3 separate regions of the Homo sapiens genome follow, and all the other regions are reported to be linked to region 1. The links are microRNA targets in miRTarBase. Many come from high-throughput screens and were not tested one by one. Region 1 holds a microRNA gene; each other region holds the end of a gene's coding sequence.
Evidence for each region. The annotated mature microRNA hsa-miR-4510 reads UGAGGGAGUAGGAUGUAUGGUU and lies in region 1 at 1,587-1,608, opposite strand. An mRNA with a match to its seed (bases 2 to 7 or 8) in the 3' UTR can be bound and repressed. Matches are read on the target gene's strand: a 7mer-m8 pairs with bases 2 to 8, a 7mer-A1 pairs with bases 2 to 7 and ends in A, and an 8mer does both.

Region 1 (3,151 bases):
TCTAATGGTGTAAGGACAAAATCACAATGAAGAAGAGTGTGTAAAGTAGCAAATTATATTGTGACCATCTTTGGAAAATATGATCTATCACATCCTCCAAGAGCTCTCTGTACTCTGGAATCAAAGCAGATATAAAGAATACAAATAAGTATTTTGGGAATATTATTTAAGGCATGGTATAAAGTTATGTAAGCACTGAACTGTAAGATGTAGTGACTTTGACATGTAAAGAAATTGATTATTTAATTGTGAGGACAGGAAAGAGCTCTAGACCAAAATTCTCCTTCTGGCTGTATATTTTATTAGCTATGTAGCCTTGGGATAGTAACTGGGCCTTCTAACTGTGTCTATATAACAAGAGGTCTGGATTGGATAATCTGTAAGAGACATTATCATTCTTAATAACTAGGAAACCATGGGCTTGATGCCTATTTGCTTACTGCGGGTCAGGGAGAATAATATGGTGAATGAATTGCTTATAAATCAAAATAACACATTTTGAACAGGGTTTGCTTTTCTGGGAATCAATAATTGACATTAAATACTGTAGAGAAAGTTATTGATGACATTGATTGTTAGATTAGTCCTTTGGCTCTAGAGTCAAAGGAAGGCATTTCCTAATGATCTTCTATAATATACAAACTTTAAGTTTCTTTTCTATGTATTTCACTCTAATGTGAACTCAAATAATCTCTGACCTGCTAACAGATGTGGAAGCTGACAAATTTATTTGTAAGCAGAATAATTACCTCTTAATATTGATTTGTAAATCCATGTTGCCATTCATTGAATTTCTCCAAGTAGAAACAAGATATATCCAGGTCTACGACTGTGGATGGCTACATGTGGATCCCTACTTAATATTGAATGAGACAATGCATATCTGTCACAAGGTAATATATGATAGCTGTATCTAATTGCATATAAAAGAGGACCAAGCCAATTGACATCTCTCTGCTCTCAAGAAAACAATGTGAGCAGGACATAGATGTGTCTTGTGTTCCACACAGGGGGATTTTGGAGTTGTGGTAAATGAGATGGATTCTCTCCAGCGAACAAACCAAGAAAGGGTTGGAAAACAATATAAAATGGTCAGACATCTTCTGGATAGAGATTGTAGCGGAGTTTAGCATAGGATATGAGCCTTGCTAGGTTTTTCTATAATGACAAGTTTAAACAGGACCAATTTGCATTTTTATAAACAGCAATCACTTCCTAGAATTCTAGGGTTTCCCAAATCAAACTCCTGAATGTCAGTCTCTCCCACTTCAGTCATGGGTAACTGCCCTCTCTCTGAGCATTACCCCTCATTTATCTTAAGGAAAATGATAGACCAGTTTGTAGCATATCCTAAATTCTCTACTTAAATTGTGCTGCAATAGACACACAATGAGACACCATCAACTAAGCAACCACTGAATGACTATTACATACAAGACACTGTATTGGAGGCTATCAAAGGGTATATTCATTCATTCATTCTTCTTCTTTTTTTTTTTTTTTGCTTATTCCATGAACATTTCTGAGTGCCTACTTAATGACAGGCTCTGTCTGTTGTGAGAAAAGATTGTAGTTGTCTATCTAACAACCATACATCCTACTCCCTCACATACACACTATTCCACAGAGGCAACCTGGTATTCATCTTAAAGGCAACAACTCTGGGGCCAGATCACCTGAGTTACAACCCTGCTGTCACTACTGAATAACAGTGTGACCTTAATTAATTAATTAATTAATTAATTAATTAATTTATTTATTTAATACAAGGTTATCTTGCTGTCTCACCAAGGGTGAAGTGCTTTGGCATGTCCATAGCTCACTGCACCCTCAAACTCTTGGGTTCGAAGGATCCTCCAGGTTCAGCCTCTTGAGTAGCTAGAACTACAGGTCCACACAATCACACCTGGTTAATTTTTAATTTTTTTTGTAGATATGGGGTTTCACTATGTTGCCCAGGATGGACTCAAACTCCTGGCCTCAACCCATCTTCCCACCACTGCCTCCCAAAGTACTGGGATTATAGGCATGAGCCGCTGTGCCTGGCCCTTAAGTTACTTAATATCTTGATAAGTTATAGATAATAACCACCTCATATAATTTTTGTATTAAATGATTTAATACACATTTCTATATCTCTTTATGTATGTTTAATAACTCTTAGAATAGTGCCTCCCTTGTTGTAAGTGCTGTGTAAGAGTTGATTTTGTTCAAGTCTTGGTAGGCCATATCCTTCAAAGGAGACTAAGTCCCTTCTCAGCTGAAGGTGCATATCAACTCTGGTTGAAATGACTCATGTAAATTCCATTCTCTTGTCCATGATGTAATGTCATTCTGTCCAGTAAAATGTGAGGGGAAGTCTGGGGTGGATTTCTAGTACAGTTTTTCTGACTTTTATGAAAGAACATAAGGAAGAGATGGTCTATCTTCTCACCTCTGGAAGTTATTGTTGAGGATATAAGGTTGGAGTAACTTGGGGATGTGAGGGGCCACGTAAGGACAAACACGAACATTCCAAAGATGGCAGAACAAAATGTGGAAATGAAATGGATCCCTGAGCCATTCATTGAGCCCTTGAAGTCAGTGATCTTGGAACATACAACAGGACTTGTCAGACAATAAAGATAACAAAGCCCTCATTGTATGAGTCATTTTGCTTGTTTTCTGTTACTTGCTGGTGAGGTCATCAGGTGAACTGACACATCGTTCTTCCCTGATCATGAGGATTCATGGTATCATTAAAATTTCTTTTTTATTTAAACAAATATGAGAAACGAAACACGCTCAGACTTTCTAGTAAGGAAAAACAAAAGCCCACCTCAGAGGACGAATAAGCAAGCCATTTACCCTAATTCAGGTGTGTGGTATTTATTTTAATATGTATAAAAATTACAATAGATACAAGTGTAAAATGGTGTGAGATTGATTTCATCAGTCTTGTCACATAAGAAGAATAAACCTCTGGGTCACTCTCCGCTGCACGATGGCATAATAAATAAGGAAAACATGGTCATGACTCCTTCTCTATGAGAGATGCGATAGTTGATTAAGTGCAATCTATTAGTAGCTGCCAGTAACAAGAAAGGTTAATTTAAACCAGATAGTCTCAGGTTTCAACCTCTTCTATGGCTGCAAATCTGGATAGGTGTCC
Region 2 (3,000 bases), not on the chromosome of region 1:
GTCCCAGACCTGGTGGATTTTCAGCCACCCCCTGAGCTGGTGCTGCGAGAGGCTGGGGAGGAGGTCCCTGACGCTGGCCCCAGGGAGGGAGTCAGTTTCCCCTGGTCCAGGCCTCCTGGGCAGGGGGAGTTCAGGGCCCTTAATGCTCGCCTGCCCCTGAACACTGATGCCTACTTGTCCCTCCAAGAACTCCAGGGTCAGGACCCAACTCACTTGGTGTAGACAGATGGCCAGGGTGGGAGGCAGGCAGCTGCCTGCTCTGCGCCGAGCCTCAGAAGGACCCTGTTGAGGGTCCTCAGTCCACTGCTGAGGACACTCAGTGTCCAGTTGCAGCTGGACTTCTCCACCCGGATGGCCCCCACCCAGTCCTGCACACTTGGTCCATCCATTTCCAAACCTCCACTGCTGCTCCCGGGTCCTGCTGCCCGAGCCAGGAACTGTGTGTGTTGCAGGGGGGCAGTAACTCCCCAACTCCCTCGTTAATCACAGGATCCCACGAATTTAGGCTCAGAAGCATCGCTCCTCTCCAGCCCTGCAGCTATTCACCAATATCAGTCCTCGCGGCTCTCCAGGGCTCCCTGCCCTGACCTCTTCCCTGGGTTTTCTGCCCCAGCCTCCTCCTTCCCTCCCCTCCCCGTCCACAGGGCAGCCTGAGCGTGCTTTCCAAAACCCAAATATGGCCACGCTCCCCCTCGGTTCAAAACCTTGCACAGGTCCCACTGCCCTCAGCCCCACTTCTCAGCCTGGTACTTGTACCTCCGGTGTCGTGTGGGGACATCCCCTTCTGCAATCCTCCCTACCGTCCTCCTGAGCCACTCAGAGCTCCCTCACACCCCCTCTGTTGCACATGCTATTCCCTGGGGCTGCTGTGCGCTCCCCCTCATCTAGGTGACAAACTTCCCTGACTCTTCAAGTGCCGGTTTTGCTTCTCCTGGAGGGAAGCACTGCCTCCCTTAATCTGCCAGAAACTTCTAGCGTCAGTGCTGGAGGGAGAAGCTGTCAGGGACCCAGGGCGCCTGGAGAAAGAGGCCCTGTTACTATTCCTTTGGGATCTCTGAGGCCTCAGAGTGCTTGGCTGCTGTATCTTTAATGCTGGGGCCCAAGTAAGGGCACAGATCCCCCCACAAAGTGGATGCCTGCTGCATCTTCCCACAGTGGCTTCACAGACCCACAAGAGAAGCTGATGGGGAGTAAACCCTGGAGTCCGAGGCCCAGGCAGCAGCCCCGCCTAGTGGTGGGCCCTGATGCTGCCAGGCCTGGGACCTCCCACTGCCCCCTCCACTGGAGGGGTCTCCTCTGCAGCTCAGGGACTGGCACACTGGCCTCCAGAAGGGCAGCTCCACAGGGCAGGGCCTCATTATTTTTCACTGCCCCAGACACAGTGCCCAACACCCCGTCGTATACCCTGGATGAACGAATTAATTACCTGGCACCACCTCGTCTGGGCTCCCTGCGCCTGACATTCACACAGAGAGGCAGAGTCCCGTGCCCATTAGGTCTGGCATGCCCCCTCCTGCAAGGGGCTCAACCCCCTACCCCGACCCCTCCACGTATCTTTCCTAGGCAGATCACGTTGCAATGGCTCAAACAACATTCCACCCCAGCAGGACAGTGACCCCAGTCCCAGCTAACTCTGACCTGGGAGCCCTCAGGCACCTGCACTTACAGGCCTTGCTCACAGCTGATTGGGCACCTGACCACACGCCCCCACAGGCTCTGACCAGCAGCCTATGAGGGGGTTTGGCACCAAGCTCTGTCCAATCAGGTAGGCTGGGCCTGAACTAGCCAATCAGATCAACTCTGTCTTGGGCGTTTGAACTCAGGGAGGGAGGCCCTTGGGAGCAGGTGCTTGTGGACAAGGCTCCACAAGCGTTGAGCCTTGGAAAGGTAGACAAGCGTTGAGCCACTAAGCAGAGGACCTTGGGTTCCCAATACAAAAATACCTACTGCTGAGAGGGCTGCTGACCATTTGGTCAGGATTCCTGTTGCCTTTATATCCAAAATAAACTCCCCTTTCTTGAGGTTGTCTGAGTCTTGGGTCTATGCCTTGAAAAAAGCTGAATTATTGGACAGTCTCACCTCCTGCCATAGGGTCCTGAATGTTTCAGACCACAAGGGGCTCCACACCTTTGCTGTGTGTTCTGGGGCAACCTACTAATCCTCTCTGCAAGTCGGTCTCCTTATCCCCCCAAATGGAAATTGTATTTGCCTTCTCCACTTTGGGAGGCTCCCACTTCTTGGGAGGGTTACATTTTTTAAGTCTTAATCATTTGTGACATATGTATCTATACATCCGTATCTTTTAATGATCCGTGTGTACCATCTTTGTGATTATTTCCTTAATATTTTTTCTTTAAGTCAGTTCATTTTCGTTGAAATACATTTATTTAAAGAAAAATCTTTGTTACTCTGTAAATGAAAAAACCCATTTTCGCTATAAATAAAAGGTAACTGTACAAAATAAGTACAATGCAACAAAATAGTGTTGATATTCATTGCCTGCGGTAAACCTGTTGTCTCTTAAAGGGGAAATGAGAAGCTGCTGGGGAGCTGTCGAAGACATCCCAGGGCCAAATGCAAACTTCCTCCTTGAGAGAAAGGAAAAGGATTGTAAAGGGAATATCTTTTTCACTAATAGGAGTCAGGACTGTCTGTCTTATTCTGTGTCCAGGTATCAGCTCATGGCCATATCCCACAAGTCTATGCCTGGGGAAATATTGCACTTGATGACGAATCTCTCTCTCTCTCCTCTCTCTCTCTCTCTCTCTCTCTCTCTCTCTCTCTCTCTCTCTCTCTCTCTCCCCCCCCCTCTATCCCCCTCCCTCCAGATAGGTAGATAGATGATAGATAGATAGTGTCCTGATAAAAGTTGGACCAGACCAGGGATGGCAATTCCTGGCATTCATAAAGCCACACTCATGGCAGACATTACTAATCAATTGCACCCATGCACGGCAGACATTTCTAATTGAACACAGCTCTCCTCCTGCAGAGCCTGGG
Region 3 (3,000 bases), not on the chromosome of region 1:
TATCCTGTATGGGAAAATCATCCACCTGGAGAAACCTTTTGCAGTCCTTGTCAAACACACTCCTGGGGATCAGGACTGTGATGAGCTTGGCCGCGAGACTGGCACCCGGTACCTGGTGACAGCACTCATCAAAGACAAGATCCTTTTCAAAACCCGCCCCAAGCCCATTATCACCAGCGTCCCCAAGAAAGTATGAAAGAACCTCGGATTTTCCCTAGAGAGCGGCCAACTCCTTGGACTCGTGCTCCGCTGCCACCTCGAGGACGGCTCGACGGTTCCCTGGGACCACAGGGGGGTCCTGTTCTGAACACAGGCCACCCACTGGGTGTGAACTCGGATCCCTTCCTTATGGCGGCCGGTTCTCTTGGTGGAAATCTGACCCCATTTCCAAGGAACCCATCTCCTTTTCCAGCTTCATCAGGCTCATTGGCTTCAAATCCAGCACCTTTCCCGGCTGGTGCTCGTGACCCAAGTATGGCTTCTTTTCCAAGAGGGATGAATCCCACTGGCACAGGTGCAGTTTCTTTCCCAAGGCCTGGTGGCCTCTTGGGGCCAGGCCCAGGCCCAGGCCCCACCCTAAACCCTAGGACAGGGGCTCTGCCAGGCCCAGGGCCTCTGTCTAACCCCAGGTTAGGGGGTCTCCCAGGACCAGGTCCTATGTCCAACCCAAGGGCAGGTGGTCTCCTGGGAGCAGGTCCTGACCCCAGAGGTGGTGGTCCCATGGGCCCTGGATCTGGACCTAACCTGAGAGCCGGTGTTCTGTTAACCTCTGGGAATGGTCCTCCCAATCCTAGGCCAGTTGGCCTGGGCCCAGGACCAAACCCCAATCTGAGATCAGGCTTTTTAGGGACAAACCCTGCCCCCAGGTCAGGTGTGTTTCCAGGCCCAGGCCTTGGGCCCAACCCAAGACCAAGTGGCCTGGGCCCAGGCCCTAATCTAGATGCCAGAGCAGGTGGCCTCTTGGGCACAGGATCTGGTCTTAACTTAAGAATGGCTGGACCTCAAGGCCTCGATCTTGCCCCCATTCTAAGAGCAGCAGGTCTTTTAGGAGCAAATTCAGCTTCTTTCTCACAGGCTTCTGGAAACATGGGCACAAGCCCATCCTCCATGGCAAGAGTACCTGGCCCCATGGGCCCAAACTCGGGTCCTAGCTCTCGGGGAATTGGCCTTCCAGGGCCAAATCCATCTCCCATGTCAAGGGCTCCTGGCCCCATAGGCCCTAATTCAGCTCATTTCTCAAGGCCAGTTGGCCCCATGGGGGTAAATGCCAATCCCTTTCCCAGGGGAGCAGGTTCATCTGCCTTTTCTCAGTCTTCTGGCACATTGGCATCAAACCCAGCTACCTTCCAAAGGTCCGCTGGCCTCCAGGGCTCAAATCCAACCATTTTCCCAAGAGCCTCTGGGCCACTTGGCCCCAACCCAGCTAACTTCCCAAGGGCCACTGGCCTGCAGGGTCCAAGTCCAACTACCTTCCCAAGGTCTACTGGCCCATTAGGCCCTGGTCAAGTTACTTTCCCCAGGCCAGCTGCCGGGCATCTGGGCCCTTCTCCAGCTGGCCCTGTGGGTATCAACCCAGCTCCTTTCACAAGGCCAACTGGGACCCTGGGTCTCAACCCAGCTTCCTTTCCAAGGATGAATGGCCCTGCAGGCAAGAGTTTCGTCCCATTTCCTAGAGTGGGGAGCCTCCCTGGCACAAACCCAGCTGCTTTCCCCAGACCAGGGGGTCCAATGGCTGCAATGTACCCAAATGGAATGTTGCCCCCTTAAACACCATTTTCCCTCCAGGACCACCTTGGTTTCTAGGCACTGTGGTTCTTGGCAGGGGCTGTCTTAGGTAAAAGGGTAGTTGTGGAGCTACAGTCTGAAGAACATAGCTTGGGCTCAAGTTCAAATGAGCCATCTTTTTCCTTTGCGTTTTTCTTGACTGAAGGTGAGATGTTATTTGTGGCATGTGAACTGTGGCAGGTGGGAATAATCCTGCCCTTGAGAGAAAGGATCTCCAGCCTCCCAGAAGCCTGCTGTGCTTTCGTCCCACAGCTTTCTGCCCATTGTTTCTTACTAGTTTCTTGAATTGTTCTTGTGGACTTTTCCTCAGGGATACATTGGCCTGCAGGTCCCAGTTCACATGTAGTCCCCTGCTCACCATTGGAGAATCAGCTCACTGCTCTCTAGAAACGTGGCGTTGGTGAACGGACCATGCTTCCGTAGCTCTGACCTGGGCAGCTTGGACCTGGTCATCCTCTACTGCCATACCTTTCCCTGGGGGCTTGAACACAGAACAGGGAGATGGACAACCACTTCAAAGAAAGACCCACCGAATGCAGTTTCTGCTTGACTGACTGGGCCTGCAGCTCCCTTCTCCTGGGACTTAGAGGTGGCCAGATTTAAGGCCCCTCTACTCATCCAACTCCCTCTTCACTGGTACTCCCAATCAATCAAAGAACCTCAAAATTTAAACTGATGTGGATGGGAATATGGGAATTAGGGTGGGGGTGGGGGATGAAGGGAAGAAATCACTGTGCTTTGTTCGGCCTGGTGTGCAAGGATGGTTGGTGGTTTTCCTGCATTGTATCTTTTCTTACTGTTTCTTTAATAAATGGGATGAGAGGGCTGCTGGTGTCACTGTGTTTTGTTACCTGTTTCATAGGGAAGGAAGTTTCCTCTGCTTTTCATTGTTTCAGCTTGGCTACAGTCTTACATCATGTCGGCTAAAATGCTTTTGCTCCAAGAGGAAGCAAGCTTTGGTTTTTAGTCTTAGCAAGGGCCCATTCATCTGCCAGTTAGTTATTTCACCAAAGACCCTCTACACTAAAAGTTAAGCCCCCATGGGTGTAGTTACCAGGATGGACATATTGCCCAGGTCTTGAGTCCCACCTGACTAAACTTTCTATTTTAAGTCCCTCTTTGGAAACTGGAATAAAGAGCTAGCTTTCATTAAATACAAAGTAGTAGTTTCGAGATAACCGGCATATGTGAGAATCTTTATTTTGACAAATAAGT

Region 2: miRTarBase lists IL2RB as a target of hsa-miR-4510. Seed matches in the 3' UTR shown: 7mer-m8 at 472-478 and 8mer at 823-830.
Region 3: the mRNA of CHTF8 is a reported target of hsa-miR-4510. Seed matches in the 3' UTR shown: 7mer-m8 at 2,408-2,414.

What each region holds. Positions count from the first base shown.
Region 1 is chr15:35,925,320-35,928,470 of GRCh38, reverse strand. MIR4510 (microRNA 4510) reads right to left here and starts at 1,615; the gene lies at 1,548-1,615. All of the region lies in intron 1 of LOC105370766 (a long non-coding RNA gene), which reads right to left.
Region 2 is chr22:37,125,318-37,128,317 of GRCh38, reverse strand. It overlaps IL2RB (interleukin 2 receptor subunit beta), which reads left to right. Exons shown (of 10, transcript NM_000878.5): 10 at 1-2,475. The coding sequence ends at 222. Among named protein-coding and RNA genes, the nearest start is that of TMPRSS6, 17 kb to the right of the region's middle. RefSeq lists an enhancer at 1,121-1,170.
Region 3 is chr16:69,117,621-69,120,620 of GRCh38, reverse strand. It overlaps CHTF8 (chromosome transmission fidelity factor 8), which reads left to right. Exons shown (of 4, transcript NM_001039690.5): 4 at 1-2,611. The coding sequence ends at 196. HAS3 (hyaluronan synthase 3) reads right to left here. Exons shown (of 4, transcript NM_001199280.2): 4 at 2,961-3,000. It overlaps DERPC (DERPC proline and glycine rich nuclear protein), which reads left to right. Exons shown (of 3, transcript NM_001002847.4): 3 at 1-2,611. The coding sequence starts at 193. The coding sequence ends at 1,767. Among named protein-coding and RNA genes, the nearest start is that of CHTF8, 13 kb to the left of the region's middle.